Linked DNA regions of Homo sapiens: region 2 is linked to region 1. Evidence: fine-mapped expression QTL. A gene starts in region 1. The other region holds a variant in brackets. All regions are shown on one strand. Distances are between the middles of the regions.

What was found.
Region 2: its variant is fine-mapped to the expression of DEPDC4 in platelets (CEDAR, PIP 0.95).

Annotation. Positions count from the first base shown.
Region 1 is chr12:100,260,567-100,276,898 of GRCh38, forward strand. DEPDC4 (DEP domain containing 4) reads right to left here and starts at 6,513. Exons shown (of 10, transcript NM_001364818.2): 1 at 6,354-6,513; 2 at 2,931-3,327; 3 at 1,698-1,843. The coding sequence starts at 6,510. SCYL2 (SCY1 like pseudokinase 2) reads left to right here and starts at 6,611. Exons shown (of 18, transcript NM_017988.6): 1 at 6,611-7,226. RefSeq lists enhancers at 6,356-6,435, 7,106-7,175, 7,186-7,245 and silencers at 6,806-6,855, 6,956-7,035.
Region 2 is chr12:101,247,953-101,264,284 of GRCh38, forward strand. No RefSeq gene overlaps it. Among named protein-coding and RNA genes, the nearest start is that of UTP20, 24 kb to the right of the region's middle. The variant G/A (reference allele first, on the strand shown) is at 8,117.

The DNA of each region.
Region 1 (16,332 bases):
TATTAGTCTTCATCAGAGTTCTCTTACGGCCAGGCATGGTGGCTCACACCTATAATCCCAGCACTTTGGGAGGCCAAGGCGGGTGGATAACTTGAGGTCAGGAGTTCAAGACCAGCTTGGCCAATATGGCAAAACCTCATCTCTACTAATAATACAAAAAATAAATAAATAAATAAAAAATTAGCCAGGCATGGTGGCACACGCCTATAGTTCCAACTACTCTGGAGGCTGAGGCACAAGACTTGCTTGAACCTGGGAGGCAGAGTTTACAGTGAGCTGAGATCACACCACTGCACTTCTGCCTGGGCGAAAGAGTGAAACTGTGTCTCAATGGCCAGCCAAGGAGGCTCACGCCTGTAATCCCAGCACTTTGGGAGGCCAAGGTGGGTGGATCACTTGAGGTCAGGAGTTCGAGACCAACCTGGCCAACATGGTGAAACCCGTGTCTACTAAAAAATACAAAAATTAGCCGGGTGTGGTGGCGGGCGCCTATAGTCCCAGCTACTCTGGAGGCTGAGGCAGGAGAATCACTTGAACCTGGGAGGCAGAGGTTGGAGTGAGCCAAGATCACAACAGTGCACTCCAGCCTGGGCAACAGAGCGAGACTCCGTCTCAAAAAAAAAAAAAAAAAAAGAGTTCTCTTTTAGTTCTTCTTCTCAATTCTACACCCTTTCTTTGGGCACCCTGTATTTCCTTTATCATGCCAATGTTAACTATTGTTGATAAATCACAGTCCTCCAGTGTGCAAGTCATAGCTAGTCTTGCTTCTGTCATGGTTTGACCAAATGGAGTAAAGGGCCATTAATGAATTTTGTATGTATCTCTCCTAACTGCCCTGGCTATGGTGCTCTTTTATCTGCCATTAGTGGCATTTTAAGGAGAAAAACACAAGTAGATGAAGTAAATAGTAAAGAGGAGTGGTGCAACAGGTAGTTTAGCTAGTTTGTTCTGAGAAAGGGAAAGAGTAGGAAGATGTTTGGGAGGAGTTTACACAATGGACAAAGGATACACTCATTAAGAAGATGGTCTTGCAGGACAAATACTAAGGACTGTGGTGAGTCCGTATGTTTTCTCTTGCAGTGCAGACTATAGCACCTCCAGTTAATCTGGTCACAGTCATTGTAAAAAATGAATTAAGTGTTATTAGATGTATATTGCCTCACCTGTCTTATCTGATGTAATTGCTGTGTAGAAGGAAACTCCTACAGGGAAGAGAAGGAGGGAGTCAACACACTAATACACTACTTAAATCACATTTAAAACGTCAGTTCTTGGAAACAGTAAAAATATTAGTGGTTGCCTAAGGTTAGAGAGAAGGGAGGAATGAGTAGGTAAAGCACAGAGAATTTTTAGGGCACTGAAACTATTCTGTATGATACTATAATGACAGATAATATGTCATCAAAAATTTGTACAAACCCATAGAATGTACAACACCAAGGCTGAGCCTTAATGTAAACTATGGGCTTTGGGTGAAAATGATGTATCAATGTAGATTCATTGATTATCACAAATGCACCACTTGGTTGCAGGATGTTGATAATGGGGAAGGTTGTGTGTGAGTGGAAGCAAGGGGTATGTGGGAACTGTACTTTCTGCTCTATTTTGCCGTGACCTTGAAACTGCTTATAAGAACCTGTTAAAAAGAAGTTAGTTCTTCCTTACCATGTTCTGAAAAAATAATGAAAACAAATTACCTTCTTTTGAAAGCCGGAGAAAAGGTTTCTGAACTGTGATATTTGGACATAAAGCTGGATTCCCATTTATTGTATGAATAAGTTCCTCAATTCTTTCCTCACCAATCTCCTGTGCTAGAGGATTTGAAATCATTTCATATCCTGGTCTGTTAAAAAATAATACGTGGCTCTTTTCATTATACACAGAACCAAAATTTCAAATATATATTTAAATTAATGTATTAAAATTTATTCATACATTCTCTATTTCCAAAAACGATTTCAGGCAGCTTATAATAAAAGATGCAAATAATTCATTTAATAGACTATCACCAAAAGAGGACAAATTAGAATTCTAAATAAAGAAGAAAAGCATATATGCTAATTCTAAGGTTAACATAGTTGTTATGATGGAATAGAAAATTTTTGTTCTGAGTTTCCAGAAAACCTTGGCTTTTAGTACACTGGCTAAGTCATTTTTCAAATTAGAAAGCATATCCATTCCTTAGAAGACATAGTTTTTCCTGGTATAAACTCTGAAAAATTTATGTGATAATGTCTTCAACAACTAAGCAAAACAGAAAACAAAACTGTATTTGCTCTAAGGAAAACAAAATGTTGTAAAGGAAAAGGAATAATATATATTTTTGGTTACAGCAACAGATGCTGCTATATTGGAAACAGTAAAAACTACTGAGATATAATTCACATCCCATAAAATTCACTTTTTTTTGAGACAGATTCTTGCTGTGTCGCCCTGGCTGGAGTACAGTGGCACAATCTTGGCTAACTGCAACCTCCACCTCCCCAGCTCAAGCGATTCTTGTGCCTCACTCAGCCTCTTGAGTAGCTAGGAATACAGGCACCTGCCACCACATCCCGCTAATTTTTGTATTTTTAGTAGAAACGAGGTTTTGCTATAATGGCCAGGCTGGTTTCGAACTCCTGATCTCAAGTGATCTGTCCGTCTTGCCTCAGCGTGGGCCACCCTACCTGGCCAAAAGTCACCCTTTTAAAGTGTATAACTCAGTGTTTTCTAGTACATTCACAAAGTTGTGCAGCCATCACTATTATCTAATTCTAGTCTATTGCATCATTCCAGTTTTAGAGGAAATGCATAAGTGGATTAATTTTCACATGGATTTTTTTTTTTAATTGGCTTCTGAAAAAAGTACACATTCGAGTTTAGCTCAATAAAGACAGTTCTTCTAGGGTCTAAATAAAATATATTACAGTATCTTAGGTAACACTAACCTCAAGGTTTCATTGAACTCATTCTCAGCATCCTTTTGTCTTTTGCAACAATCGTAAGATGATTTATTGCCTAGAAACCTGTAGAGACTAATGTTGGAATCTTCAAATTCTAATTCCTTTTCTTTTTTGAAAAGCTTCTTCATTCCTACTGGTTCAAATACTTTGTGATTCATTAGAACTTGGCAAAGATGAACCCCTTTAAGACAAGAGATGTCATTGCTACTTAGGCACGTGTTTTGCATAAGATGACTTAAGACCACATCGACAGCATCAGAACCAGTGAAACAGTCTTTGTATGTCTGTAAATGATGCCTCCTTCTTTTTATTTCCACTTGGGCCTGAAGAGAGTGAATAATACCATCCCATAGCTGAGTAGCTTGAAAAGGACCAGAGCATCCTGAAAAAAATTAAATATGCATTTCTAACAAATCTAGATTATACAAAAATATGCAAATTTTTCAGTTTTGACAACCTTATGCTTGTTGAAGGCATATCTGCTGGTAATGTCCTTCTTACGTGTCATCTCACATCTTACATAAACTATAGTATATTTACTAAGTTGCACCATGTGGGTCTGCCAATAAAAACAGAGTAAACCTGGGAACTTGCTTTACTGATGTGAAATACATTATTATATGAATTTATATACCCTTATTACATGGTTAACTACTAGTTATACCGAATCTTCAAGAATGTTATTTTAGGGCATATTTAAAAGTAATGCAAATACACTTGAGTATTGATTATTACAGAGTTGTGGCTTCACCAAACTCTTTGCCTTTTCTTTTTTCTTTTTGCCCTTTTGAACAATGGTTAGTTCTTCATTAGGGAGATCAAGGCAAAGAACTAAATAATCAATTTTTTTAATTGTTTAAACCAGCTGTTTAAAAAGTTTGCTAAGGCCAGGCACAGTGGCTCATACCTGTAATCCCAGCATTTTCAGAAGCCGAGGCAGGCAGATCACCTGAGGTCAGGAGTTTGAGACCAGCCTGGCCAACATGACGAGACTCCACCTCTACTAAAAATACAAAAATTAGCCGAGCGTGGTGGCATGCGCCTGTAATCCCAGTTACTCGGGAGGCTGAGGCAGGAGAATCTCTTCAACCCAGGAGATGGAGGTTGCAGTGAGCTGAAATCGCGCCACTGCACTCCAGCCTTGGTGACAGAGCAAGACTCTGTCTCAAAAAAAAAAAAAGTTTGCTGAAAAATGAAAGAGGGTCACATACCCACTTGAGCTGAATACTTGAATATAACCCAATTATCTAAATTATGAAGTGAAACTACCAAACATTGTAGAGATATTGGGCTCTAGAAAGTGCTTCCACTGTTGCTCCCGATTAAGGGGTTTAGATAAAGATGTGCCTTATTTTACATGGACATATTGCATAATGAAAAAAAATTGCCTTATCACATGCTGAACTTACTCTCCAAATAACAGAAATCCCACTTCTCTGGGCAAAAAGAAAAAAAAATTGCTGAGAAATAATGAAAACCTAAAAACAATCAAAATGTCTATTACTGGCCAGGTTCAGTGGCTCATGCCTGTAATCCCAGCACTTTGGGAGGCTGAAGCAGAAGGATCGCATGAACTCAGGATTTCAAGACTAGCTTGGGCAACACAGGGAGACTCTATAAAAAATACAAAAAATTAGTGGGGCATGGTGGCGTGCTCCTATAGTCCCAGCTGCTCAGGAGGCTGAGGTGGGAGGATCACTTGAGCCAGGGAGGCCGAGGCTGCAGTGAGCTGTGACCCTGCCACTGCACTCCAGTCAGGGCAACAGAGTGAGACCCTGTCTCAATTAGAAACAAAAACAGTTGGCCAGGCGCAGTGGCTTAAGCCTGTAATCCCAGCACTTTGGGAGGCTGAGGCAGGTGGAGGTCAGGAGTTCAAGACCACACTGGCCAACATAGTGAAACCCCATCTCTACCAAAAATACAACACAAAAAAATTTAGCTGGGCATGGTGTCGCACGCCTGTAATCCCAGCTACTTGGGAAGCTGAGGCAGGAGAATTGCTAGAACCAGGAGGTGGAGGTTGCGGTGAGCCGAGATCACGCCATTGCACTCCAGCCTGGGCAAGGGAAAAAAAACAGTCTATTACCTGAAAAAAACAGTTAAATAAATTATGGTATACCCTTACTATAGAATAGTAGCCAGCCATTAGAAAGAATGAAGTAGAGCTATGTTTATAGTGTGCAAGGATCTCATTAAGTAGGGAAAAAGAAAAACCCAAAACAAAAATTTTTTAAAAATGAGCTGAGCAGAACAACTTGTATATTATTATCCTACTTAGGTAAAAATGAATTCCCAACCTATGTAAAAATGTATGTAAATAAATAGAAAGATCTGGAAGAATAAACTTCAAACGAGTAACCTTGGGGAAGAAGGATTGTAATGGTGGCTGATGAAAGAGGATGTACCCTTTTAAAGTGTACAATTCAGTGTTTCTAGTACATTCACAAAGTTGTGCAGCCATCACTATTATCTAATTTCAGACCATTGCATCATTCCACAAAGAAACCTATAGTTCGCAGTCATTCTTCATTCTTCCGTACCCCAGTAAAATTTTAATTAAAATTAAATTTAATTAAAATTAATTAAAAAAATTAAAGAATGATAAGGGAATAACTTAGAACTTCTAGAATGTTTTTTCTAGATTTGCAGGGGGAAGTGGGTAGAATCCAAGAACTTAAGCTCTCTTCTCCAACTATGCATAACCGCAAAAGTATGCCCAACTATACATATGTTTACGATAAAATGACAGAAATAAAAATCCACCACCCTCAAATTCCTTCTGTAACAGAAGTTACCCGTCTAATCACTCAAGAAATCTTATCCCCAGACATTGTGGGCAGAGCGGAGACTGAGGAGGGGAGGCCAGAAAGTGATGGGCGGAGGTGGGCAGGAGGGTACTCGACGGGGTAGGTGGAAAATACAGCGGTACAGCCTGTTTTCCATAGACAGTCTACCTCTCTAACCTTCATTAAACAAGTAGGCTAGATTAAAGAAATAACTCCTCTAGCTCAAGGAATTTGCCCTCTAGTACATTAACCCCTTGTTGCTGTAAGTGTAGCCTAGGGACCAGCAGCATTGGTGCCATCTGGACATGTATTAGAAACGCAGATTATCAGACCCTACTCCTCAATCAGAATTTGCACTTTCACAAGATCCTAGGGATTCGTATGTATATTAAAGTTTGAGAAAAAACGCTTTCCTGCACGCTCCAAGGGCACTTCACCACAGTAACCCCTAAAAAGCCTCAGTCCTGGGTCCCCCAGTCCAGTGCCTGGTAGGGCAGGAAGGGGGCGGGGCTAGGAAATGGGCGGGGCCCTGGACCAATGAGGAGCAGAGTCCCAGCCGCCTGCTCCCTTCAGCTGCCCCCTCCACCTTCACTGCACATTTGGCTAGGATATACAGGGCTACCTGTCCTCCTTTTCCGGCAGAAGCCATCTCTACGGTTCCTGGAACTTGGCCCGTTCAGCCCTGGGCCCGGAAGCTCGTTCTGACTGACAAGTCTACGGAACCTCGGAGTCAAAAGAACCGCCATAAGCTCGCGCGCTGGCTCCTCCCCTGGCACCATAGCCCCGCCCCACCTGACACCCGGGGCGGAGAGAAGTACTGGCTCCGCCTCTTCCGAACCGGCAGGAAGTGACGTCATGCCCCCGGCCGGCAGGTCTTTTAGTCTTTTTCCCCCTCCCTTACTCTTCGTCCCCGGTCCCTCCCCTCCCCACCCCTTTCCTTCTAGCTCCGACGTTTGCGGCCGCGGGGGCGGCGGAGGATATGGAGTAAAGCCAGAGTCAGTGGCCAGGCACGAAGGCAGAGCAGGAACAGCCAGGAGGCGTTTATTAGGGGGGCGGGGGGAAAGAGCCCCAGCACCGCCCCTCCTGGAAGAAGGAAGAGGTAAGTGACCGGCCGCCGGCACCGACCGACCTCCCTCACCGGCGGCTCTCTCGCCTGGGCTCCCGGAGCCGGCGAGGAGGGAATGGAGGACTCGCGCCCGGGTTAGGCCTCCCAGGGCCGCTCAGGCTGGTGGGTGTTGCCTGGTGACGGGCCTGCCGGCGGCCGGCCGGGCGATCGGCGGTCGGCGCCCGCGCAAAGCGGGGCTGGACGAGCAGCGAGCTCCGGGGAGCGGATCCGAGAGGGCCGAGTCCTCGAAAGAGGCCTTGAGGCGACGGGAGACCCGGGATCGAAGTCAGCTGCCGGAGGGAGAGCCCCCCATGCCGGCTCGAGAGCTCGGGTTTCGGTGGTGGAGAACGTAGTACCTTTCGGGGACATTGGACACTACTCTAGGACCGGGTGAGAGAGTTCACCTCAGTTCTGAGGTCCGGAATCCGGTAGCCTGGGTCACCAGCCAGGGCCCTGCCGCCCGCCGTCCTTCTCTGACAGTAGCTTTAGTTCTGGAATGGAAGGTTATTGTGTGTGAGGTGGGTGGGGCAGGGGTTTTGTTAAGAGAAAAAACCCCACGGTTACTCCTGCAGTCTTGTTTTTCTAAACGGGAGAATACGGATGGAGGAGGGTTTAGACCGATAAAGCTTGCAAAAACTTATTGGACTTTGAGCACATACCTGTGATCCGTAATTAAGGAGGCCATATTATCAAATCCACCCTCTAAGGCACTCGAGGAGGCTCCAGACAAGCTGCTTAAAAGCGCTATGCCTGTAGTGACTTCATTGGAAGGTGTCAACTATTTTTTAGTACGTCAAACTCAGGAATTATTTGTGATGACACTTTCTAAAAACATTGGATACTATGAGTGAGTTTTCTAAGTAGCCTATCTCCGTTCTGAAAAATAAATAGTTTAGCAAAAATGCTCCAAATCAGCCTGCCACTGTAAAACCCCATTATGTTCTGGTGATGGCTTGAAAGTCAGGTGCTTGAAGATTCCTTTTGGACTTTGCAGGTTTGTTGTTGTTTGGTTTGCTGTCTTATTCTTTAGCACAAATATTTTTAAAATATTTAAAAATGAAATCAGCTGAGTATATAAATTACTTCTTGAGGCAACATTAAACTGTAATCATAAAGAATGCTTTTGGGGGATTGTGTAAAGGAAGGGAACCTAATGGAAGGTAAGGGCCTTCATTCTCTTTAGATTTACATTACTCACATGCAGAAACCTATTTTGTCTCTAAGATTCATAAATACCCAGTAAAATAAATACAGGCACATTGTACTTCTATACTGTGGAATACTTTCTAGACAGATCAACCCTGTTACTGGGAATAACTACTCATATTCACATGTTTGAAATTCATGATATACCTCCCTTCCCCCACCCCAAGAAGAAAAATAGCTCCTCTTACTGTGTTTAACTCCGTGGGTAGCATCACTATCCATTCCTTTGTATAGAAGTTGAAGTTTGACAATTCCTCTGTCGTGCTTCATACTCAGCCTCTCATGAAGTCCTGTTGATTTTGCCTCTTGAATATCTCTTGACTCTTGTCTGCTCTTCGTCTGTAACAGTAGTCCTGTTCCAAGCCACCACCATCTCTCATCCTGACTACTTCCGTAGCCTCCTGATTATGGTCTGCTTGCATCTACTGTGGTCTCCTGTAGTTTTCCAAACAAGACTTAGTGACTTTTTCAAAATGCAGACCTAATAACATTGTCTTAGTGTTTAAAATCTTTCAGTGGCTTCTCACCATTTTTAAGTAAATCGAACACATTAACATGCCCTACAAGCCCTGCATAGTCGGTCCCCTTTCCAAACTCATCTCCACTGTGCTTTCTGACATTCCCTTTCTCCCCTAGTCACCCTGTCTTTTCTGTTCTCCTGCTTCAAGTATGTGGCTTTGGTTATGCTACTTCCTCTGCTTGGAAATGCCCTTCCTTTCTTTTTTTAGCCAATTATGCCTATTCATCATTCAGCTCACTTCAGGGAAGACTTTCCTGATTAGAATACATTCTCCTGATTATATGTTCTTACCACACCATTGAAGAGTTGTCATGTTTATTAATACTTAATAAATTAATTAGATGTTCCTCATCTCCTGATGTGTAAGTGCTGAATGTTTATTAAATGAATGAATTCATTTAATGCTTACTGAATGGGCCAAGAATTGTACTAAACATTTTATCTTATCATCACTGTTAATCCTTATAACAATCACTTGAGGTATAGCTAGCTTTTCCCCTTTTTGTAGATTAGAAATAGTGTTAGGGTGGGTAGTTAGTTGGTGATGGCTCTAGTAAATATTAGAATTGGCATTTGAACTCAGATTTCCTTACCACTGAAGAGTGTGTACTTAACCATGTAACTTAATTTTAACACTTTGCTGTTCATCAGAATCACTTACGGAGCTTTCTCAGGATACAGATATACTTCACCTTTATAGGTTCCGATTCCAAAGGTTTGAGATACTACCTAGGCATCTATGTGGTTTAAGAAGTTATCCAGGTTATTTAGATGTTCACCAGAATTTGAAAACCACTGTCTTAGACAGTACTTGTGTTTTATGAGTTTGTTTTCATACATTGTATTTGAGATTTTATACTTTTTTTTTTTTTTTGTGAGACGGAGTGTCACTCTGTCACCCAGGCTGGAGTGCCGTGGCGCGATCTCGGCTCACTGCAAGCTCCGCCTCCCAGGTTCACGCCATTCTCCTGCCTCAGCCTCCCGAGTAGCTGGGACTACAGGCGCCCACCACCAGGCCTGGCTAATTTTTTGTATTTTTAGTAGAGACGGCGTTTCACCGTGTTAGGCAGGAGGGTCTCGATCTCCTGACCCTCGTGATCCACCCGCCTCGGCTTCCCAAAGTGCTGGGATTAAAGGCGTGAGCCACCGCGCCTGGCCGAGATTTTATACTTTCTTAAATTAAGGAAGAACTGTAGACTTTAAGGAAGTGATCATTTAATCTAATTTCCTACTCAGTTATTCCTTGTCCCTCTTCTCTAGCTGGAAGGCCTGAATAGTGAGAAACTGTCACCCCTCTGCTACTGCTTTAAAAAAAAATTACAATAATTTCAAGAATCTGATTAACTTCTTGTTGTAAAAACTATAGTTCACTAAATACATGGGCTGGAAGTAGCTTCAAAAAACTTGGATGTAATCTTTCCTCAGATCTTACTTATTGTTTAAATTACTAATTTGATATTTAAGCGTATGTTGCCTGAAATTTCATGTTGCTTTCTTTTTTTTTTTTTTTTTAATATTTTTATTTACATAGAGACAGGGTCTCACTATGTTGCCCAGGCTGGTCTCGAACTCCTGAGCTCAAGTGATCCTCCTGCCTTGGCCTCCCAAAGTGCTAGGATTACAGGCATGAGCCACTGGCCTCATGTTGCTTTTTAAATCTTAAATCTTATTGTACAGTGGTCTTAAAATTTGTGACCAGTGACAGAAACTGAATGTTTTACTTCTTGTTTCTCCCCCTGCATTTAGCATGGTGCTTTTCATCTAGTAGGTACCCAATAATTTGTGTACTAACTTGGCTGTACATTGCTAAGTCTTTTCAGTTTTTTATGTTCGTTTTTAAAATCAGGCTTGTCTTCTGTAATCTGTTCTGGCTTAACTATGTCTGATAATTAGATACTCTTTGTAATTGTAAAGAGAATGATTATACTCAGCTGGTTTAATCTTTGTTCTGTATAAGATTAAACATGATTTCTGTATAGAACAAAGAAGAGCATTATCCAGTTTTTGAAAACTTTCTTTTAAAAAACTTCTAGTAATCTCTGAGTGCTCCCACAAGCAGAAATGTATATTTCAAGAATACATCTTAAGGCCAACTCTGGCCTTAAAGTTAGCCCTGCTCCTTGCAGAGCAGCAAAAAAAAAAAAAAAAAAAAAAGAGAGAGAGAATATATCTTAAGATCATCTTTCTTTAGATACAAACAGGTAAGTACTGCATATGGGAGTATAAGCACACGTATTTTCCCCCAGATTTTGTGAAGTATTTAACCGTATTTCATGTCTTCTGAATGTAATTCTTGAATGTAATTCTTAATTAGAATTACAAAAATTCATTGAATAACTATAAATGATGATATAAATGGTATTCTCTTATTTTCAGGCATTTACATACAAATCTCAGACCTTTGTGCCCCTTTAAGGGATAAAGCAAACTATTTTGAGTTTCTTTGTTTTATATTGTTGTTCTTTGTAGTCAGTGTCTATTATTTTGTGCTTTTTGAAAGTCTAGTCTCTGCTAGGTGCCATGAGACTGAAAGTTATTAAATGTAACTTCATTGCCAGATGTAATTACGGTAAGCCTTTTATTTGCATTGCAGTGACTTCAACAAAAATGGAAGCTCATTCTGCTTTATAATATTTTATTCTTGGGATTGTAAGCTTGGGAAGCTGGGGAAAAAAGTAAAAATATATTCTTGGGGAAGTATAGGACTGTTTGTAGTCATGTTATTTGAAAATTCAGGAAGTCTTTGTTAAGCATAAATATAATTTTACCTGTTACATTTCTTGCTGTATCTAGAATTCATGAGCAGGCAGGACTGAAAGAATTGCCAGTTCCTTTCAGCTACCTGCTGTCAGATGCTGTAATACTCATCCTACTTTCTGCCAGGTGCACGTAAAATCTAGTATTACAACAGATTCACATGCTGGTTCTATTGAAAGCCAGGTGATGGCTGAGCTAGATGGTAGAGAGATACACAGTCTTGGAATCATACTGAAGCTACCCCAAATCCTATTTTGGCTGAAATTTAGGAAGGGCAGATGATTGAATTTCAAGTGAATTATAATAAATGGTGTACAATGAGAAATGCCTTACATGACTAAGAATTTCCATCATTTATAACTTTGTCATTGGAAAATATAGGCTTTTTTCTTCATTAATCAAAGGAAAAATGAAAAGCTATCATTTTAAGAAAAGGTATTTGGACTCTTAGGTTTCTTATATGTCAAATGGCTATGCTAATAATTCAAAATCTCGTTTAAGTTCAGGTCTTATTTTACAGGCTCCTTGGAGATTACTCTGTCCTTGGCCTTCTGTAATTTTCATGGTATTCTTGGGTGATATTTTTCAAGGCCATAGTCTACCATACTGGCTCATCGTGCACCAATTTTTACTTTCAGTCTGGACGGTTTTTTCTAAGTTTTTGGCCTGCATGTCTAAAAACCTATTAGATATCTCCATCTGAGTGTCATTCAGGCAGCTCAAATTCTACATGTCCAAGTTGAGTTCTTCCCCTATAAAACAACTGGCTTCTATATGTCGTTGGTAAATGGCTTCACCTTCCACCTAGACTGTGAAATTGGGGGTGGGGTAGGATTCTTAGTTTCGTTCTTTTCTTCTCTTGGTTTTAACTTGTTTCTTAATTTTTCCTTTCTTCTCCTTTCTCACTGCTATTTTTGTAATTCAGCAACGCTTCTCCCTTTAAAAATTTGTTTAAAATGTGAAATATAACACATAAAAGTATATAACGTAGTTTAACATGTAAATACAAAATAAATATCTGTATAACTAGCACCTTTGAAATACCTCCTTTACCCACCATCTCTTCTCTATCTTCCTTGACCATATTTCCTTTATTTTCTTGCTTTTATATATTCTGAATTATAAATATCCCTGAATTGCATATTGAAGTTCTCTTCAGTCTTGCCATATTCTCAGCCTCCACCTTTAGTATATCTTTCACTCTGCTTGATAGAGTGATTGATCATCTTACTGATGCCTGAAACCCTTCTGTGGCTTCCATAGCTTGATTTCTTACTACTCAATGTCCTTGGTGATCTGGCTTTTTAGCCTCCTTTGCCATACTTTCTTCTTTTTCTTCAGCTTTTAACTGAACTTGGTTTTTGCTTTGTGATTTTACTCCTACAATTCTCCTATTCTCTATCCAGTTTACTCCTCTAGCATTACTGTTTTTGGGAAACATTCTATTCCTCTTCTTTTTGTTCCTATAACACTGTGCATGTATATTCTGTAGCGTTTTATCACTCTGTAGGCTAGTGCTGTGGTGGTTTTACTTGTCTGTCTTCTCCCTTTGATGTAAGATTTTTCATAGCTTATTTTTCATTTACTTCCTTCCCAGTTTCTCATATGGTATCAGATACATAGTGGATACTCAGTAAATATTAAACCACCAAATGAATTTCCATGCCTGTTCTTTGCCATACGTACATCAGTGTTGACTCTGGATGATGGATAGCATCTCAAATTTGAATATCAATTCTGAAAATATGCTTTGTTTTCATATGTAACTGTAGTTTGCAGACCACACCATAGTCTTCCTCCCTTACATATCTTGGCACGTGGTATTATAATCCCTTCTGGAATACTCCTTCCCCCCTTACTTTATAGTTTTGAGCCCATCTTAATATTTCCATAGCATGTACATTCTTACCACAAGTTAATTGCTGTAACTCTTTGGAGGACTGAGTCTGCTATTGGACGGAGTCCCTAAAAAGAAGAACCTCTGTATTCTCAGTGTATAACAAGATGCACGGCATTTAATATATAGCTTGTCAGGCAGCGTTAGAGGAATAGATATGTATGGTTTTAAATAGAATTTTGTATCCTTTCACCTTCCCGTCAAAATCAACAGCAGATGTTCATAGAGAACAACTTGGCATAGCCAGTAAATGTTTTCATAATGCCAGTAGCAACATTTTCTAGCTGCTTACAAAAATGCAGCATTAAATTAAAAAGGGAAAGTCAGTCTCCATTTCCATTTACAGACAGTTCAAATCTTTAATAGAAGAAAGTGGGTTATATTTACATAAGTATAATTTCGTTAATAGAGAAAACAGGATACAAACTACCTGAGATCAGTGGTCTTCAAATATTTTTGCTTGTGTATCCAATAATTTTGAATAACATGTGCTCCTCTTGCACATTTTTTAAGTTGATCACAGCTGGAGTTTTTTTGTCAAGAGTTTAAATAGTTGCAAAAGATCTAATTTCTAAATTGTCGTATATTGTGATAGTGCTTTACTTTATCAAAACCTTGGAGTTTATCAATTGAAATAAATGTGTTCCTATATATCTCTGTGACAACCATCTTCTTAACTGTAGTTCTGTGGTAGATAAGGCGTGGGTTCTTGTTGTTATTAACATCTGTCCTGAAAGAAGCAAGGTACAGCCTCCTTTAGTATTTCTTATCAAACTTCCTTGTGCTTTACTCTTAAGTGGCTTTCTCATAGAATTAAATCTACAGATTGCATCCCCCTCCTCCCACAAAATTTTTTTACACCTAGGAAAATGGCCTACAGTAACACTGGGATGGCTGAGAGAAATACTTTGTTTTAGTCAAGTGGGAAAAAATTGTGAACAAAGAAGTGGTTAAGGAAAATCTTCAGGACATAGACTTGTTCTCAGGCAAATCAATTTTAGGAAAGAGTACACCTGGAAGTTGACAATTTGGAGAGCGATAGGGCTTTAAAACCTTGGTTTGTGCCATAGACCCTTTTGACAATTTAGTAAAGCCTGTGGATCCCTTCTCACAGTAATATTCTAGAATCAGTTTGTCACTTTCTACAGAAAGCCTGCTGGGATTCTGGTTGAATTGCATTGAGTTTCTAGATTATTGGGGATAACTGACACATTAACCATATTGAATCTTCCAATTCATGATCACAGTATATATCGTTCCATTTATTTAGGTTTTCTTCAGTTTCTGTTAGCAGTATTTTGTTTTCATTGTATAGATCTTGCATAGCTTGTTAAATTTATTCATAGGTATTTCATACCCTTGAAACAGTATTTTTAAATTTTAAATTTTCTAGTAGAAATACATAGAAATGCAATTTCTTTTTTTTTTCTTTTTTTTGAGACAGGGTCTCACCCTGTCACCCAGGCTGGAGTGCATTAGTGTGATCACAGCTCACTGCGTCCTCAACCTCCCAGGTTCAAGTGATCCTTCCACCTCAGCCTACTGAGTAGCTGGGACTGCAGACATGTGCTACTGCTCCTGGCTAATTTTTAAAAACTTTTTGGAGTCTTGATATGTTACCCAGGCTGATCTCAAACTCCTGTACTCAAGCAATCCTTCCACTTCAGCCTCCCAAGGTGCTGGGATTACAGGCATGAATTACTATGCCCAGCCTAGAAATACAATCTTTTCAAATATGTTGTTCTTGTATTCTACTATATTGCCAAACTCATGTATTCATTCTGATAGCTATTTTGTAGATTGATTCCTTCTGATGTTCTGTGTATGCAGTTGTGTCATTTGGGAATAAATTGTATTCTTTCTTTGCAGTCCGAATGCCTTTTATTTCATTTTCTTGCTTTATTGCCTTGGTTAGGACCTTTACTGGAATATTGAATAGAAGTGGTAAAAGTGGGTATACTTACCTTGTTCTGAAACTTAGGGAGAAAAGTGGTTAGTATTTTATCTTTAAATATAATGTTAGCTGTAATTATTCAAAGATGCTATTTATCAGGTTGAGGAAGTTCCTTCCTGTTCTTAGTTTCCTAAGAGTTTTTATTATGAATTGGTATTGAATTTTGTCAGTTTTTTTTCTGCCTCTACTGAGATTATCTTGCTTTTTTTCATTATTCAGTTAATGTGAATTACATGGATTCATTTTTAAAAGTTGAATTAACATTGCATTCCTGAAGTGAACCCCATTTGGTCGTGGGGTTGGATGTGATGTTCTAATATCTTAAGGATTTTTACATATTAACGAGGGACATTGGTTTGCAATTTTATTGCCATTGCATTATTTGGTTTGATGTCAAGGTAATGCTGACTACATAACATGAAATGGAAAGTATCCTCCCCTCTTCTATTTTCTGGGAGAGTTTGTGTAGACTTGGTATGATTTTTTTCCTTAAATGTTTGATGATATACCCTATTCATTTAGAAGCTTTAGAATTAGAATCTGTAGAATTTCTGTTATTGGTCATTTGTGTCTTTTAAAATTTTTATTTTCTTTCTTTTTATTTTTATTTTTGAAATAGGATCCCACTCTTTGTCACGCAGGCCAGAGGAGAGTGGCACAATCATGGCTCACTGCAGCCTTGATCTCCCAGGCTTAAGCAATACTTCCACCTCAGCCTCCCAAGTAGCTGGGACCATAAGCACACACCACTATGCCCTGCACATTTTATTTTATTTGTTTTTGTAGAAACAGGGTCTCCTTATGTTGCTCGGGCTGGTCTTGAACTCCTGGGCTCAAGTGATCCTCCTGCTTTAGTGTCCCAGAGTGTTGGGATTACAAGCATGAGTCATTGCACCTTGCTAAAATTTTCTTGATCAATATAGCTAGAGTTTTACTGATTTCATTGATCTTTTCAAAACTTTTTTTTTACTTCATTGGATTTTTTTCCTCTTTTTCATTTCTCTATTAAATAAAGTATTACATTAAATTCAGTCTCTTTCATTGATTCCTCCTCTTCTACTTATTTTAATTTTCTCTTTTTCTAGCTTCCTAAGGTGGAAGCTTAGACCATTATTTTGGACTTTTAAACTCCCTAATATAAACATTTACAGCTATAGATTTC
Region 2 (16,332 bases), 990 kb after region 1:
TTCTGTTTCATGCGTAATGGAAATAAGGGCAATGTAATTATCACAATTAAAAGTTACTTTCGGCCGAGCACAGTGGCTTATGCCTGTAATCCCTGCACTTTGGGAGGCCGAGGTAGGGGGATCACCTGAGGTCGGGACTTCGAGACCAGCCTGGCCAACATGATGAAATCCCGTCTCTACTAAAAATACAAAAAATTAGCCGAGCATGGTGGCGGGCGCCTGTAATCCCAGCTACTTAGGAGGCTGAGGCAGGAGAATTGCTCGAACCCAGGAGGCAGAGGTTGCAGTGAGCCAAGATTGCGCCACTGCACTCCAGCCTGGGAAACAAGAGTGAAACTCCGTCTCATAAAAAAAAAAAAAGTTAATTTCATCAAACCCATAGATATATTCAATCCACACTACTGAAAACATCTTTAAGTTCAAAGGACTTGAATAATAAATTAGTTAATTCTGCAATTATGAAATAGAAATCACAAAATCAATTGTTTCACATAGAAATTATGGGATGGTATTCAACTGAGACCAAGGCAATTGTAATTTTAAATAGCATGAGCTTTAGCTAAGATTCAATAAGTGATAGACAAGTGATGATACATAGATAGGTGGTGGATATGCACACATAACATGTGTATAATCATATCATTCAACAACATGGACCACTGACAATATACATGGTAATGTGCTCATTGCCAAAATAGACGTATTGACAAAAACATGGCCCCTGGCCTCTCAGATTTTCGTTTCAGTTCCCCCAAAAACCGATAATTATTGAGCACTGACTCTGTGCCAGGAACATGTACAAAGTACCTGGCACAGAGTAAGTGCTCAATAATTGTTAGTTCTCTTACCCCACCCTCCCCTTTCCACATTCTCATCATTAATGGAAGATGAAAGAGTCCCACAGATCCCTTTTACAGAAAATGAAAAGGAATGCACTGCCGGGGCCCCTTGGCCCTTCTAATAATGCAAACCATGTAACATGTACAGGAAATTAACTCTAGAATAGACTCAGAATTTTCAGAGCAAATAATTTGTAGCTTCATCCCAACTTTAGACTAACTGGGGGAAAGTTTCTGGGAAGTAGGATAAAATCACCTAGTGTGAGGTCAGCAGGGCAAATTCCAGGAACTGCAGGCTCCCACCCCAAGCCCTGTCCTGATGTCCCCATCCATTGCCTGTGTCGGCAGCTCTGACAGTGGCAGGTTTGACAAAGGTGCATGTTCAGGAAGAGTTGGTGTTAGGGAATCCCAATACGCTCTGCACTTCATTCATTCCTGATAAGTGACTGAGTTCTTTGCAGGTGAGCTAGTCTTGTCCTCCTTCCAGGAAGCCTACTCTAGATAAAAAGACCTGCATAACCTCAGTCACAAAGCTTCTTGAGAAGACACGAGTAGTCAGTTTTTACTTTTCAAAGATATAGAATATTGGCATTTTTTTTTCAGTTGCCCAGAGCCTAGCATAGTGCCTAACCATATATAGACATCCAGGATACCGTGTTGTTTGAGTAATGAATGAATTAAAAGTAGCTCACGCCTGTAATCCCAGCACTGTGGGAGGCTGAGGTGGGCAGATCACTTGAGGTCAGGAGTTGGAGACCAGCCTGGACAACACAGTGAAACCCCCGTCTCTACTAAAATACAATAATTAGCTGGGCGTGTTGGTGCGTTCTCATAATTCCAGCTACCCTGGAGGCTGAGGCAGGAGAATGGCTTGAACCCAGGAGGAAGAAGTTGCAGTTAGCCAAGATCACACCACTACACTCCAGCCTGGGCAACAGAGCAACACTCTGTCCCAGGAAAAAAAAAAAGTATCACTCAGGAAATTGCCAGTTCTGTTGGACTGACCTGTTAAAACTCTAATAAAATGGCAATAGCTAACACATACTTCCTATTATATACTAGGCACTGTTCTAAATGCTGAAAGTTGTTACTTTCTAAAATATTTTTCAAATCCTTCAACAACCCTATGAGGTGGATATACTCATTAATAGGAGCAACTATTATTATACCCATAAGGAAGCTTCCAGCACAGCATAATAGTAAGGAGACCTAGTTTTACTCATGACCATCCATAGCAGCTTGCACAACAAGCCCTCAATCATGGCTGCACCTAAATATACATAAGTCATGTTCCTTTCTTTTCTTTTTCTTTTTTTTTTTTTTTGAGACAGAGTTTCGCTGTCTCAAAGCTAGAAGACAGTGGCACGATCTCGGCTCACTGCAACCTCTGCCTCCCGGGTTCACGCCATTCTCCTGCCTCAGCCTCCCAGCACCCACCATCATGCCCAGCTAATTTGTTTTTTCTTTTTTTGTTTTTTTTTGTTTTTTACTTTTACTTTCAGTAGAGATGGGGTTTCACTGTGTTGGCCAGGCTGATCTTGAACTTGTGATCCGCCTGCCTAAACCTCCCAAAGTGCTGGGATTACAGGCATGAGCCACCACTCCTGGCCATCAATTTCCTTTCTTACAGGTCAAGAAAAATAGAGACTCAGAAAGAGTAACTAACTTGCCCAAGATTGCCCAGCTAACAGTTGGTGAAGCTGAATTCAAGACTAGGTAGTCTTGCTCTTCAATCAGTGCTTCTAACCACTAAGTTACACTGCCTCACAAGAATAACAGAAGCAATTTTTCCACTTACACCACACCCTTCTTATAACAAGATACTTGAACATGTGCATAGCCATGTGTGTTTTGGTAAAGATATACCTACATCTTGTGAAAGTAGCACAATCTGAAATCCTGAACTCTTTCCTTTCTAGTTAGGCCTACAGAACTTGAAAACATACAGTCTCTTTTCATTAATTAGGAAGAAAATCCTGACACTAAAACTAAGCATTTGTTTGCAAATATCCACCTTCATATACCAACCCATATATAAACATTCATGGACTAGACATTGGTTTGAGGTCCTGCTATGATGAACCAGTGGCCGGTGGCCCACCACACACTTTTGTCATTCTGTACTGCTTCCGTCTCTCAACCAACCAAACAGTAACCTGGTCACCCGTCTAAGCCCCTGTCAAGCCAATCCAGTTGTTTTTTTTCCAGCAAGGTGAATTATAGAGCGTAGAAGTATTTTACCTTTTTCTATTACCTTCTCTGCAACAGAAGTCATGGGCCCATAACAATATCCAATCAGAAATTTCTTTTGCCTTGTTCTAAACACAAAGGGATAAGTTTCCTCCTAGATTTTATAAAACTCTTAAAAGAAAATGCATGATTTTTAAATGAAGGCACTTCAAAAAGAGGATTTGAAGATATTACTGGTCCTTGTCCCTTATAGCAGCTATGTGGCCTTCATCTGGGAAAGGGGCACCAAAATTTTGTCGTGACTTTCTTAATAATAGATAGTTGTCACAGTATGTTAATCGAAACCACTTCCCATACTTCCCATAATTGTTAGCTGGCCTTTTCATGGGAGAGATTTTTTCAAAGATTTCCCATAATGACGTAACGTATGAAAACAAAGCAGGTTATAAAATAATATGTATTGTATAATTATATTTTTAATAATACGTATGTATTAACAGGCATAAAAGTGTCCTGGAAGGATACACCCAAGGGTGTTAACGTATTAGAATTATTTGTAATTTTGAATTTTTTTCTTATCTAAATATTCTAATTCTTGCCGGGCGCGGTGGCTCACCCCTGTAATCCCAGCACTTTGGGAGGCTGAGGCGGGTGGATCACTTGAGGTCAGGAGTTCAAGACCAGCCTGGCCAACATGGTGAAACCCTGGCTCTATTAAAAATATACAAAATTAGCCGGGCATGGTGGTGCACGCCTGTAATCTCAGCTATTCAGGAGGCTGAGGCAGGAGAATCCCTTGAACCCAGGAGGTGGAGGTTGCAGTGAGCTGAGATTGCACCACTGAACTCCAGCCTGTGCAACAGAGTGAGACTTGGTCTCAAAAATAAATAAATATATATATAAATAAATATTCTAATTCTTGTGCTACAAATATGTATTGCTTCTGTATTAAGACAAAATGTTTCAACTACTAAAAAAATAAGATTCAGATGAGCTACATAAACAGTTTCTGAGAGTACCAAGATTGCACTAAGATTCTATGCCTCCAGAAGGGGGTAAGAAAGTTAATATTTATTAAGAACTTGCTATATTTCAGACACTTTGTCTTTTTTTTCCCATTTAATCCTCTCTGTGATTCTGTAAGATGGGTAGTATTGTTACCATTTTACAGATGAGGAAACTTGAGGCTCAAGAAGGTTACATAAATGTCTAAATCATATGCTGAGCACAGAGCCAGGATTCCACCAGATTCATCTGATCCCAAAGGCCACACTCCCTTCACTTGCCAAAGAAGCTTCCAGCACAGCATAATAGAAAGGACACCTGGTTTTACTCATCACCATCCATAGCACCTTGCACAACAAGCCCTCAATGATGGCTGCACCTAAGTGTATATAAGTCAAGTTCCTTTCTTTTCTTTCCTTTTTTGTTTTTTGAGACAGAGTTTCGCTGTGTCTCCCAGGCTGGAGTGCAGTGGCACGATCTCAGCTCGCTGCAACCTCTGCCTCCCGGGTTCATGCCATTCTCCTGCCTCAGCCTCCCAAGTAGCTGGAACTACAGGCGTCCGCCACCATGCCCGGCTAATTTTTTTTTCTTTTACTTTTAGTAGAAACGGGGTTTCACTGTGTTGGCCAGGCTGATCTTGAACTCTTGACCTCGTGATCCACCTGCCTCAGCCTCCCAGAGTGCTGGGATTACAGGCATGAGCCACTGAGCCTGGCTGTCAAGTTCCTTTCTCACAGGTCAAGGAAGAAGTGCCATGTTGCACACAGACACTCCACTTAGCCCCTTCACTCATCCCCAGTTAATGCAAATGACTCTGAGATTCTTGTTACAGCTGCAGTGCAATTTGCTGTGTCTTTTAAGACAAAATGTGGTTTGCATTCTCTCTGTTTGTGGTACAGACCCATTATTAGGGTGACTTAGAGCCCTTTGATGATTCTGAGATACATATTACACATGCTCTTAAAGGAAGCGTCTTTACATCACAGTCAGCTGACAATTGGCCTCTTATGTTAACAACTGGCAAAACATCACAGCTTTGCCTTAATTACCTTTTGTTTTCCTGTCCTGTTGCTTGTTTTGTTAAGTATTAATATGACTTTGGTTTCCCCCTCACACCAACAAGCTTCAGGCGATTCATTTATGATCTCTCTTTGCTGTCACATCACTTCTGTGAAGAATATAATCGCTGGACATTGTTTTCCCATTATGAAAAAGGACGCAGTGAGGAAGTGCAGATGCACCTTATGGAATAAGACTGGCAAAATGGCAAGTGGGGAGTGATTGGCAAGAAACTGACATTATAGGAAAAGAAGCAAACTCTGAGCAGACGTGGATGGGCATTGACATTTAGGCAGTGGGAGAAAGAATATGTGGATATGTGATAATGGAGGGAAAGTACTTCCACTGACAACAGCAAGGACTATTTCTGAGGCTTTTACAATGGGCCAGACTCAAGAATAAGTGTTTTACACGTGATTCATCCTCACAAGCAGGATCAGATCCAAGGTTTGTGCAGCTCTGAAGATGACACATTTTGGGAAGAGGGCAGGGGTCTTTAGACTAGAAAATTACAAATACAGTGTACCTAAAGCCCTCCTGTGAGAAGCTTGTACAAGTGAGGTGTCTTGAGCCTTAAGCTCCCTGAGCTTCATGACAAACCCATAAACCCTCTGAAGTGGTCTCATCCATTCCACATATAAGTGAAGCTCAGCAAGGTTGGCTGGGCACAGTGGCTTATTCCTGCAATCCCAGCACTTTGGGAGGCCAACGTAGGAGAATCATTTGAGTTCAGGAGTTTGAGGCCAGGCTGGGCAACATAGTGAGACTCCATCTCTACAAAAAAATTTTTTAAGTTAGCCAGGCATGGTGATGCATGCCTGTGGTCCCAGCTACTCAGGAGGCTGAGGTGGAAGGATCACTTGAGCCCGGGTGGTTGAGGCTGCAGTGAGCCGTGATAAGCCAGAGCACTCCAGCCTGGGCAACAGAGCGAGATCCTGTCTCAAGCATGTGCACCATACTTGAACATATACAAGTATGCAAGTGCAAGGGAGTTGGCATCTCATGGGGCAACTTAACCACTACAGGGCATGAACTAGTGGATAAATGTTCCCCTCTTCTGACTCTTAGGCAGATGATTCTGAATGGGTGACGAACTCATCCTGGCTTTCCAGGGACCTGAGTTTTCCCTGGTTTAGCATGGAAATCCCGTGTTGCTGTTGGTTATCCTAATTCCGAAATGCAATTTGCAGGACTGCTTAGAGAGTCCCAGGGGCATCAAGTCCCAGTTTCCCACAGCTTAATAACACACGCTGTTTTGCCTTTCCCTGCTTTCCTGAGATTACTTCCCAGGATCAGCAAGGTTAACTAACTTGTCCAGTAACACAACTAGCAAGTAACAGAACAGGCTTCCAAAATCCTAAAAAAAAATTTCCAAAGCCCCCAAATAGGCAAACTCTTATTTGTCTTGAGGACAAACTCTTAAAGCAGCAGCACAAACACCTTGATGTGGTTCTGTGAGTTTTCCTGGCAGGGCCCAGCCTATCCTTTGTCAGAACCTGCAGAGCTTGGGGCTGTGGAACCCTACCAAGACCTCTGGTGGAACTTGTATCTTTCAGATTCATAGAATCTATAAAGAAAGCCACTGTTGAGGTGGAGAGAAAAACAAGTTTTAATGATTCAGCTCTTTGTATCCACAAACCAAAAAGCAGGGAAAAAAATTCTTTTTAAGACACACATATTTAATTTAGCCATAGTCCTGGATAAAAACTTCCAGTGTTAAGAGCTGGATGCGGGGAATTGCTGGTAAACTGGCTCAGGGAGGGGTGGATGTGGAGAGAACATGGATTTGTAGCATCTGTCAACTTCTGTGGTGTCAATACTCTCCCCATGACTGATTTCAAGCTACCAGTGGTTGTTTGGCTTGAAACATTCCTGAATATTTAGCAACTGGCTTTTACAAGCAGGTAGGAGCAGCACACCACTGGCTGTGATGATCATGACCTCAAGTTCTACAGTAATTAGAAAGACCTTTCTTACATCTCAGAGCCAAATATTTTTGGCCCTGATATCTTGTCTAGTTGGCACTGCGGAAAGAAGATTTGAGATTGTTAAATCTCGAGAATCTTGTCAGGGGTCTGGGTGCAGTGGTTCATGCCTGTAATCTCAGCACTCTGGGAGGCGGAGGTGGGTGGATCGCTTGAGGTCAGGAGTTCGAGACCAGCCTGGTCAACATGGTGAAACCCCATCTCTACTAAAATACAAAAAAAAAAATAGCCAGGCATGGTGGCACATGCCTGTAGTCCCAGCTACTTGGGAGGCTGAAGCAGGAGAACTGTTTGAACCAGGGAGGCGGAGGTTGCAGTGAGCCGAAATCATGCCACTGCACTACAGCCTGGGCAACAAAGCAAGGCTGTCTCAAAGGAAAAAAAAGAATGTTGTCAGGGAAATAAGTTGGGAGTTCTTCATGGTCCACTATGACCCATATATAAAATCTTTCTTCAATATGTGCTCAACTAGTGAAATGGACATGAAACAGGCCACCAGGCCTATTAACCCTAGTGGCGCTAGGAAGGGACAAGGCCCCTGACACCCCACAAGCCTTTGCCCATCATGTATAACTGCACCTGCTGCAATAGAACAACTGGTAAAAGCAAAATCTAGCCTAACCTCCTAATTTTGTACACTTGATCTTAGCAGAGTAGCAGCCAAGAATTTGGAGATGAAGAAACTGAGGCCCAAGGAGAAGCGTGTCAAAGGTCACATAGGATTTTAAATACTAAAAGTGGGACCAGAAGTTAAGTCTCCTGACTATCTGTCTGCAGTCCTTTCTATATCTGGCTGTTCAAGCAATTAAACCTTATAATAAATATTTCATTACACTGTCTTTGAACAGTGCCATACCTTCCAGACTAATTTTGTAACAACGTCAGGAAAGTGATAATTTGGCTGTTTGGGGCCCTGACTTATTTCACTTGCCTCTGTCTTTTTAAGTTTCCTAAAGTTGGAAACACTCATCACTGCACAGATAAGCTAAGCATTGCCCAATTCAAAGACCAGCTAGATTCCCCATAGAAAACAGAGCC[G/A]AAGACACAAGCTTGTGTGAAGGCAGTATATATTGGGAAGTAATCCCAGAAATGCAGGAAAAGGCAAAACAATCTGTGTTATTAAGCTGTGGGAAACTGGAACTTGATCTCACTGGGACCCCCTAAGGAGTCCTGCATAATGCATTTCAGAATTAAGGTAACCAACAGCAACATGGGATTTCCAGTGCTAACTCAGAGAAAACTCAGATCCGTGGAAAGCCAGGATGAGTTCATCACCCTTTCAGAATCATCTGCTCAAGAGTCAGAAGAGACGAATATTTATCAACTAGTTCATGTCCTGCAGTGGTTACATTGCCCCATGAGATGCCAACTCCCTTGCACTTGCATACTTGCATATGTGACAGTCAAAATACATTTCTAACAATGTCCAAGGAAGTTGAGCAAGAGCAACCCCAGGGCAGAATGAGATGCAGGGCAGCCACGTTGTGACTGAATGCAAGTCTGGCTGCTCATGACTTGAGAGCCAAAATATGAGAAGCGAGTAAAAGGAAAGCAACTTTATTCAAATGCTAGCAATTGGGAAATGGCCAGGCTTGTGCCTCCAAAAGACCATTTCAAGTGTTAGACTGAAGGAAGGGATTTTAAAGGGGGAGACTTGGCCAGGCGCAGTGGCTCATGCCTGTAATCCCAGCACTTTGTGAGGCCGAGGCTGTCCGATTGCTTGAACCGAGGAGTTTGAAACTAGCCTGGGCAACATAGTGAAAACCCATCTCTACAAAAGATACAAAAAAAATTAGCCAGATGTGGTGGTGCACACCTGTAGTCCCAGCTACTCTGGAGGCTAAGAGTTGGGAGGACTGCTTGAGCCTGGGAGTTGAGGCTGCAGTGAGCCATGTTCACACCACTGCACTCCAGCCTGAGCAACAGAGAGAGACTCTGTTTCAAAAAATATGTTAAAAATAAATAAAAAATAAAAAGGGGATACTTAGTATGAGAACCATGCCAGAGTAACACAAGATACAGGCCTGCATGTCTTCTTCCAAGGGTTATTTTGAGTTGTTGTCCACTTGGAGTGCTGGCTGGTGCCATCTCAGTTGCAGTCAGTTTATAGATGTCTGTCATGAGGTAATCTCCAAGTAGGGGAGAATTCTGCAGCTGGGTCTCCTTGCCTGGCTGTTGTGTAAAATCAGCCCCTGGAATTTATTAACAAGTATACAGTTAGATACGTGTCCATGGTGCAAGGGAGAGTCTGGTGGGAAAGAGAGGGAAGCAGAGTTTCAAAGTACATTTCAAGGTATATTTTAAGACTAAGGAAAAGAGAGTTTCTACACTCAGTTTCGAGGTTACATCTTAAGACTAGAAAGAGAGGAAAAAAGTTTTAAAATGCATTCAAAGTTGAAAGACTCAGTTACAAGGTGAGGGAAAGTAGATTCACTTCTCTGGGTGCTGGGTGCTGCAGCAGGGACTGGAGAAAAGGTAGGTTGAGAGGACGTGAGGCAGTGCAGAAGCGGTGTCTCACACAGGGCATGAAGGGCAGGCAGCCTTGGTCCCTAGGCTGATAAGACTTCAGTACCAAGTGACCCTCTGGGACCTGGAAGATGGTGACTACAATCCATGAAGGGACAATTTATCAAACCGTCCTTTCACAGATCTCCCCATGACAAGATACTGATCCACTTTGTGGCTTTCCTTCTCACCTTTATCACTTTCTCCTTTACTCCCTCAACAAATATTTAGTGAGTACCTATCATATGCCAGAGACTATGTTAGTTACTTAAAATGTAGCTAAACATAATCCTTATCCTCAAGAAGCATTTAGGGGAGGGACCAACCAGAAAACAGACAGCTACAATACAATATGATGGTGCTAGAGAGAATGGGCCAGAGGGGAAAGGGAGAAGAAAGATTTCATGTAAGGAAGTAGTATCAAAGCAGAGTCCCTAAGGATTACAAGAATAATAACAATAGTAGATAACTTTTATGGGATGCTTACAAAAAGCCAGGCAATGTTCTAAGGTCTTCACAGTACTAATGTAATTAATCCTTACAATAGCCCTGTGAAGGAGGTGCCACGATGATCCTCAACTTTGAAATGACAAAGCTGAACTATAGGAAAATTAAATAAGCATGCCAAGGTTTAAGGCACAATGGCACACACTGCTAGCTGGTCATTCACCAAAACTCATTTTCTCTTCTTCCTGGGCACACAGTTAGGTGACGTTTCCCAGCCTCCCTTGCAGCTAGATGTAGCCTTGTGACTGAATTCTAGCTAGTGGAATGGGAGCAGAAGTGATGTGTACCATGTCCAGGGCTAACCCATAAAAGCCTCTCACATATACCCTCTGTATGCTTCCCCCGTTAATGGAGAAACTAAACTCCATAAAAAATTTTTTCTTTCTTTCTTTCTTTTCTTTCTTTCCTTCTTTTTCTTTTCTTTTTCTTTCTTTTTTTCTTTCTTTCTTTCTCTTTCTTTCTTTCTTTCTACCTTTCTCTCTCTCTCTTTCTTTCTTTCTCTCTCTCTTTCTTTTCTTTTCTTTCTTTCTTTTTCTTTTCTTCTTTTCCTTAAACAAGGTCTTGCTCCGTTACCCAGGCTGGAGTGCAGTGGAATGATCATAATCATAGCTCACTGCAGCCTCAAACTCCAGGCTCAAGCGATCCTCCCACTTCAGCCTCCTGAGCAGCTAGGACTGCAGGTATGTGCTACCATACCCAGCTAATTTTTTTTTTTTTTTTGTAGAGATAGGATCTTGCTATGTTCTTCAGGCTGGGCATTAAACTCCTGGCCTCAAGCTAACCTCTAGCCATGGTCTCCCAAAGTGCTGGGATTATGAGTGTTAGCCACCACACCTGGCTAAAATATTTTAAAGATGTTATTCTGAGTCAATATGAGTGACCATGGCCTGGGGAACACAGTTTCAAGAGGTCCTGAGAAAGTGCACCCTTGGTAGTAGGATTACAGTACAGTTTTACACATTTTAGGGAGGCAGGCGTTACAGGCAAAGATATAAATCAGTCACATGGAAGGTATTTACACTGATTCAGCCTGAAAAGGTGGGATATCTTGAAGCAGGTGCTTACAGGGTATAAGTAAATTCAGAGACTGTTTAATTTACAATTGGTTAAAGAAATAAAGCTTTGTCTAAAAATTCGGAGGCAGCAAAAAAGGAATATTTCATATTAAGATATTGTTTTCCAGTACACTGGGTTACAGTGAATTATAAGAATGTGTGACTCAACCCTTCTTGTGTCGTGTTAGGTCCTATTTGTAATTTGGCATCTTATTGTGACAATAAGTCCATTTTGTTAGCTTTACGATCTCTATTTTAACACTAATGCTGTTCAGTTGTGCCTAAACTCCAAAAGGGAGGGAGGATAACAAAGCATATTGGACCTTCCCTTCTTGTGATGGCCAGGAATTCAGTTTTTAAGTTTTTCTTGAGGTCTTCTTGGCCAAGAGGGGGTCTGTTCAGTTGGTTGGGGGGCTTAGGATTTTATTTTTAGTTTACATTCTCTTCTGGATGTCTGGAAAGGGTGACCTTGGAAAGCAAATGTTGAAAATGGTTGTCTCAGGCTAGGCGCAGTGGCTCACGCCTGTAATCCCAGCACTTTGGGAAGCCAAGGCGGGCTGATCACCTGAGGTTAGGACTTTGAGACCAGCCTGGCCAACGTGGCGAAACCCTGTCTCTACTAAAAATACAAAAATTAGTCGAGCGTGGTGGTGGGCGCCTATAATCCCAGGTGCTCAGGAGGCTGAGGCAGGAGAATCGCTTGAACCCGGGAGGCGGAGGTTGCAGTGAGCCTAGATCGCGCCACTGCACTCCAGCCTGGGTGACAGAGCAAGACTCCATCAAAAAAAAAAAAAAAAAAAAAAAGAAAGAAAGAAAGAGAGAGAGAGAGGGAGGGAGGGAGGGAAGGAAATGGTTGTCTCTCTATTAGTTTAAGTCCCTACATAGAGAAGGGCATATGCCACTGATTATTTGCTTGCCTATAATTGTTATTTGAGCAAGAAATAAACTTTTACAGGGTTTAGGCCATTGTAGACCTTTGGGTCTTTCTGTTGCAGCAATAATTCCACCAATTTTATGAGTCTATTTGGTAAAGCAGTTAGTCTACCATAATTAACATGGGCACATATAAAAAGATGGCAGAAAATCAGGTTGAAAAGATAAATGAAGGGTGCCATGCATCGTGTTTAAAAGTTTACCTTTTTCCCAAAAGTATTGATGAACTTTTCTTCTAAGACGGAGCAGAAGGGGGAAAAACAGACAGATACAGTTCCAGTTGGATAGAAAGGATAGTTGAGGTTCATATAACTTGCACTCCTTTTGTGAGCACTAAGAGGCAGTGTCATCTTCTTAGGGTATGCTGGATGTGTGAGTGTGTGTGGGTTGCAAAGGAGCAGGCCAGGAGCACCAGAAAGGTTTAGAACAACGCGAGAGGCAGTTAGGAGGGCAGACTTTGGAGCTTGAATCAGTCAGACTCCAGTAGAAAAAACAGGTATCACTCTAAGCATTTTCAAGAAGAAGGAATTTGATACAGGAAATTGAGTGTTCACAGAACTTATGGAAAGACCTGAGAAGGCAAAATTCAGGCAACTCTCCACTAGCTTTCAGTTTCGTTGCCTCAGAGCTGGAGAGCTGCTGCCATCCAACTTAGAATCCTGCAGGAAACGACTGCCAACTTCAGAGACCTCCACCATCCCAAGGCAGGTAAACTGGCAGGGAAATGTAGTGTCTGCTGTAAAAACTCATGTTCGTGAACTCTACTGGGATGTTTTTAAAACATAACTGCACATTCTTTCATGTTCTTTTCATCAAGAGATGTGGCCTGTGTCCCTTTCCCTGGAATCTGAATGGGCTGTGACTGCTTCAACCCATGGGGTATGGAAATAAAGCTATGTGACTTCTTTTTTAATATAATTTTTATTTTTATTTATTTATTTTTATTTTTTATTTATTTTAAGATCTGGGATACATGTGAAGAACATGCAGGTTTCTTACATAGCTATACATGTGCCATGGTGGTTTGCTGCACCTCTCAACCCGTCATCTAGGTTTTTTTTTTTTATTATACTTTAAGTTTTAGGGTACATGCGCACAATGTGCAGGTTTGTTACATACGCATACATGTGCCATGTTGGTGTGCTGCACCCATTAACTCGTCATTTAGCATTAGGTATATCTCCTAATGCTCTCTCTCCCCCCTTCCCCCACCCCACAAGAGTCCCCGGAGTGTGATGTTCCCCTTCCTGTGTCCATGTGTTCTCATTGTTCAATTCCCACTTATGAGTGAGAATATGCGGCGTTTGGTTTTTTGTCCTTGTGATAGTTTACTGAGAATGATGATTTCCAGCTTCATCCATGTCCCTACAAAGGACATGAACTCATCATTTTTTATGGCTGCATAGTATTCCATGGTGTATATGTGCCACATTTTCTTAATCCAGTCTATCATTGTTAGACATTTGGGTTGGTTCCAAATAGCAAAAGACAATAGTCTTTGCTATTGTGAATAGTGCTGCAATAAACATACGTGTGCATGTGTCTTTATAGTAGCATGATTTATAATCCTTTGGGTATATACCCAGTAATGGGATGGCTGGGTCAAATGGTATTTCTAGTTCTAGATCCCTGAGGAATCGCCACACTGACTTCCACAATGGTTAAACTAGTTTACAGTCCCACCAACAGTGTAAAAGTGTTCCTATTTCTCCACATCCTCTCCAGCACCTGTTGTTTCCTGACTTTTTAATGATGGCCATTCTAACTGGTGTGAGATGGTATCTCATTGTGGTTTTGATTTGTATTTCTCTGATGGCCAGTGATGATGAGCATTTTTTCATGTATTTTTTGGCTGCATAAATGTCTTCTTTTGAGAAGTGTCTGTTCATATCCTTTGCCCACTTTTTGATGGGGTTGTTTGTTTTTTTCTTGTGAATTGTTTGAGTTCATTGTAGATTCTGGATATTAGCCCTTTGTCAGATGAGTAGGTTGCGAAAATTTTCTCCCATTTTGCAGGTTGCCTGTTCACTCTGATGGTAGTTTCTTTTGCTGTGCAGAAGCTCTTTAGTTTAATTAGATCCCATTTGTCAATTTTGTCTTTTGTTGCCATTGCTTTTGGTGTTTTAGACATGAAGTCCTTGCCCATGCCTATGTCCTGGATAGTATTGCCTAGGTTTTCTTCTAGGATTTTTATGGTTTTAGGTCTAACATGTTAAGTCTTTAATCCATCTTGAATTAATTTTTGTATAAGGTGTAAGGAAGGGATCCGGTTTCAGCTTTCTACAAATGGCTAGCCAGTTTTCCCAGCACCATTTATTAAATAGGGAATCCTTTCCCCATTGCTTGTTTTTCTCAGGTTTGTCAAAGATCAGATAGTTGTAGATATGAGGCGTTATTTCTGAGGGCTCTGTTCTGTTCCATTGATCTATATCTCTGTTTTGGTACCAGTACCATGCTGTTTTGGTTACTGTAGCCTTGTAGTATAGTTTGAAGTCAGGTAGCGTGATGCCTCCAGCTTTGTTCTTTTGGCTTAGGATTGCCTTGGCGATGCGGGCTCTTTTTTGGTTCCATATGAACTTTAAAGTAGTTTTTTCCAATTCTGTGAAGAAAGTCATTGGTAGCTTGATGGGGATGGCATTGAATCTATAAATTACTTTAGGCAGTATGGCCATTTTCACGATATTGATTCTTCCTACCCATGAGCATGGAATGTTCTTCCATTTGTTTATATCCTCTTTTATTTCACTGAGCAGTGGTTTGTAGTTCTCCTTGAAGAGGTACTTCACGTCCCTTGTAAGTTGGATTCCTAGGTATTTTATTCTCTTTGAAGCAATTGTGAATGGGAGTTCACTCATGATTTGGCTCTCTGTTTGTCTGTTATTGGTGTATAAGAATGCTTGTGATTTTGGTACATTGATTTTGTATCCTGAGACTTCGCTGAAGTTGCTTATCAGCTTAAGGAGATTTTGAGCTGAGACAATGGGGTTTTCTAGATATACAATCATGTCATCTGCAAACAGGGACAATTTGACTTCCTCTTTTCCTAATTGAATACCCTTTATTTCCTTCTCCTGCCTAATTGCCCTGGCCAGAACTTCCAACACTATGTTGAATAGGAGTGGTGAGAGAGGGCATCCCTGTCTTGTGCCAGTTTTCAAGGGAATGCTTCCAGTTTTTGCCCATTCAGTATGATATTGGCTGTGGGTTTGTCATAGACAGCTCTTATTATTTTGAGATATGTCCCATCAATACCTAATTTATTGAGAGTTTTTAGCATGAAGGGTTGTTGAATTTTGTCAAAGGCCTTTTCTGCATCTATTGAGATAATCATGTGGTTTTTGTCATTGGTTCTGTTTATGTGATGGATTGCGTTTATTGATTTGTGTATGTTGAACCAGCCTTGCATCCCAGGGATGAAGCCAACTTGATCATGGTGGATAAGCTTTTTGATGTGCTGCTGGATTCGGTTTGCCAGTATTTTATTGAGGATTTTTGCATCAATGTTCATCAAGGATATTGGTCTAAAATTCTCTTTTTTGGTTGTGTCTCTGCCAGGCTTTGGTATCAGGATGATGCTGGCCTCATAAAATGAGTTGGGGAGGATTCCCTCTTTTTCTATTAATTGGAATAGTTTCAGGAAGAATGGTACCATCTCCTCCTTGTACCTCTGGTAGAATTCGGCTGTGAATCCATCTGGTCCTGGACTTTTTTTGGTTGGTAAGCTATTGATTATTGCCACAATTTCAGCTCCTGTTATTGGTCTATTCAGAGATTCAACTTCTTCCTGGTTTAGTCTTGGGAGAGTGTATGTGTCAAGGAATTTTTCCATTTCTTCTAGATTTTCTAGTTTATTTGCATAGAGATGTTTGTAGTATTCTCCAATGGTAGTTTGTATTTCTGTGGGATCGGTGGTGATATCCCCTTTATCATTTTTTATTGCATCTATTTGATTCTTCTCTCTTTTCTTCTTTATTAGTCTTGCTAGCGCTCTATCAATTTTGTTGATCCTTTCAAAAAACCAGCTCCTGGATTCATTAATTTTTTGAAGGGTTTTTTGTGTCTCTATTTCCTTCAGTTCTGCTCTGATTTTAGTTATTTCTTGCCTTCTGCTAGCTTTTGAATGTGTTTGCTCTTGCTTTTCTAGTTCTTTTAATTGTGATGTTAGGGTGTCAATTTTGGATCTTTCCTGCTTTCTTTTGTGGCCATTTAGTGCTATAAATTTCCCTCTACACACTGCTTTGAATGTGTCCCAGA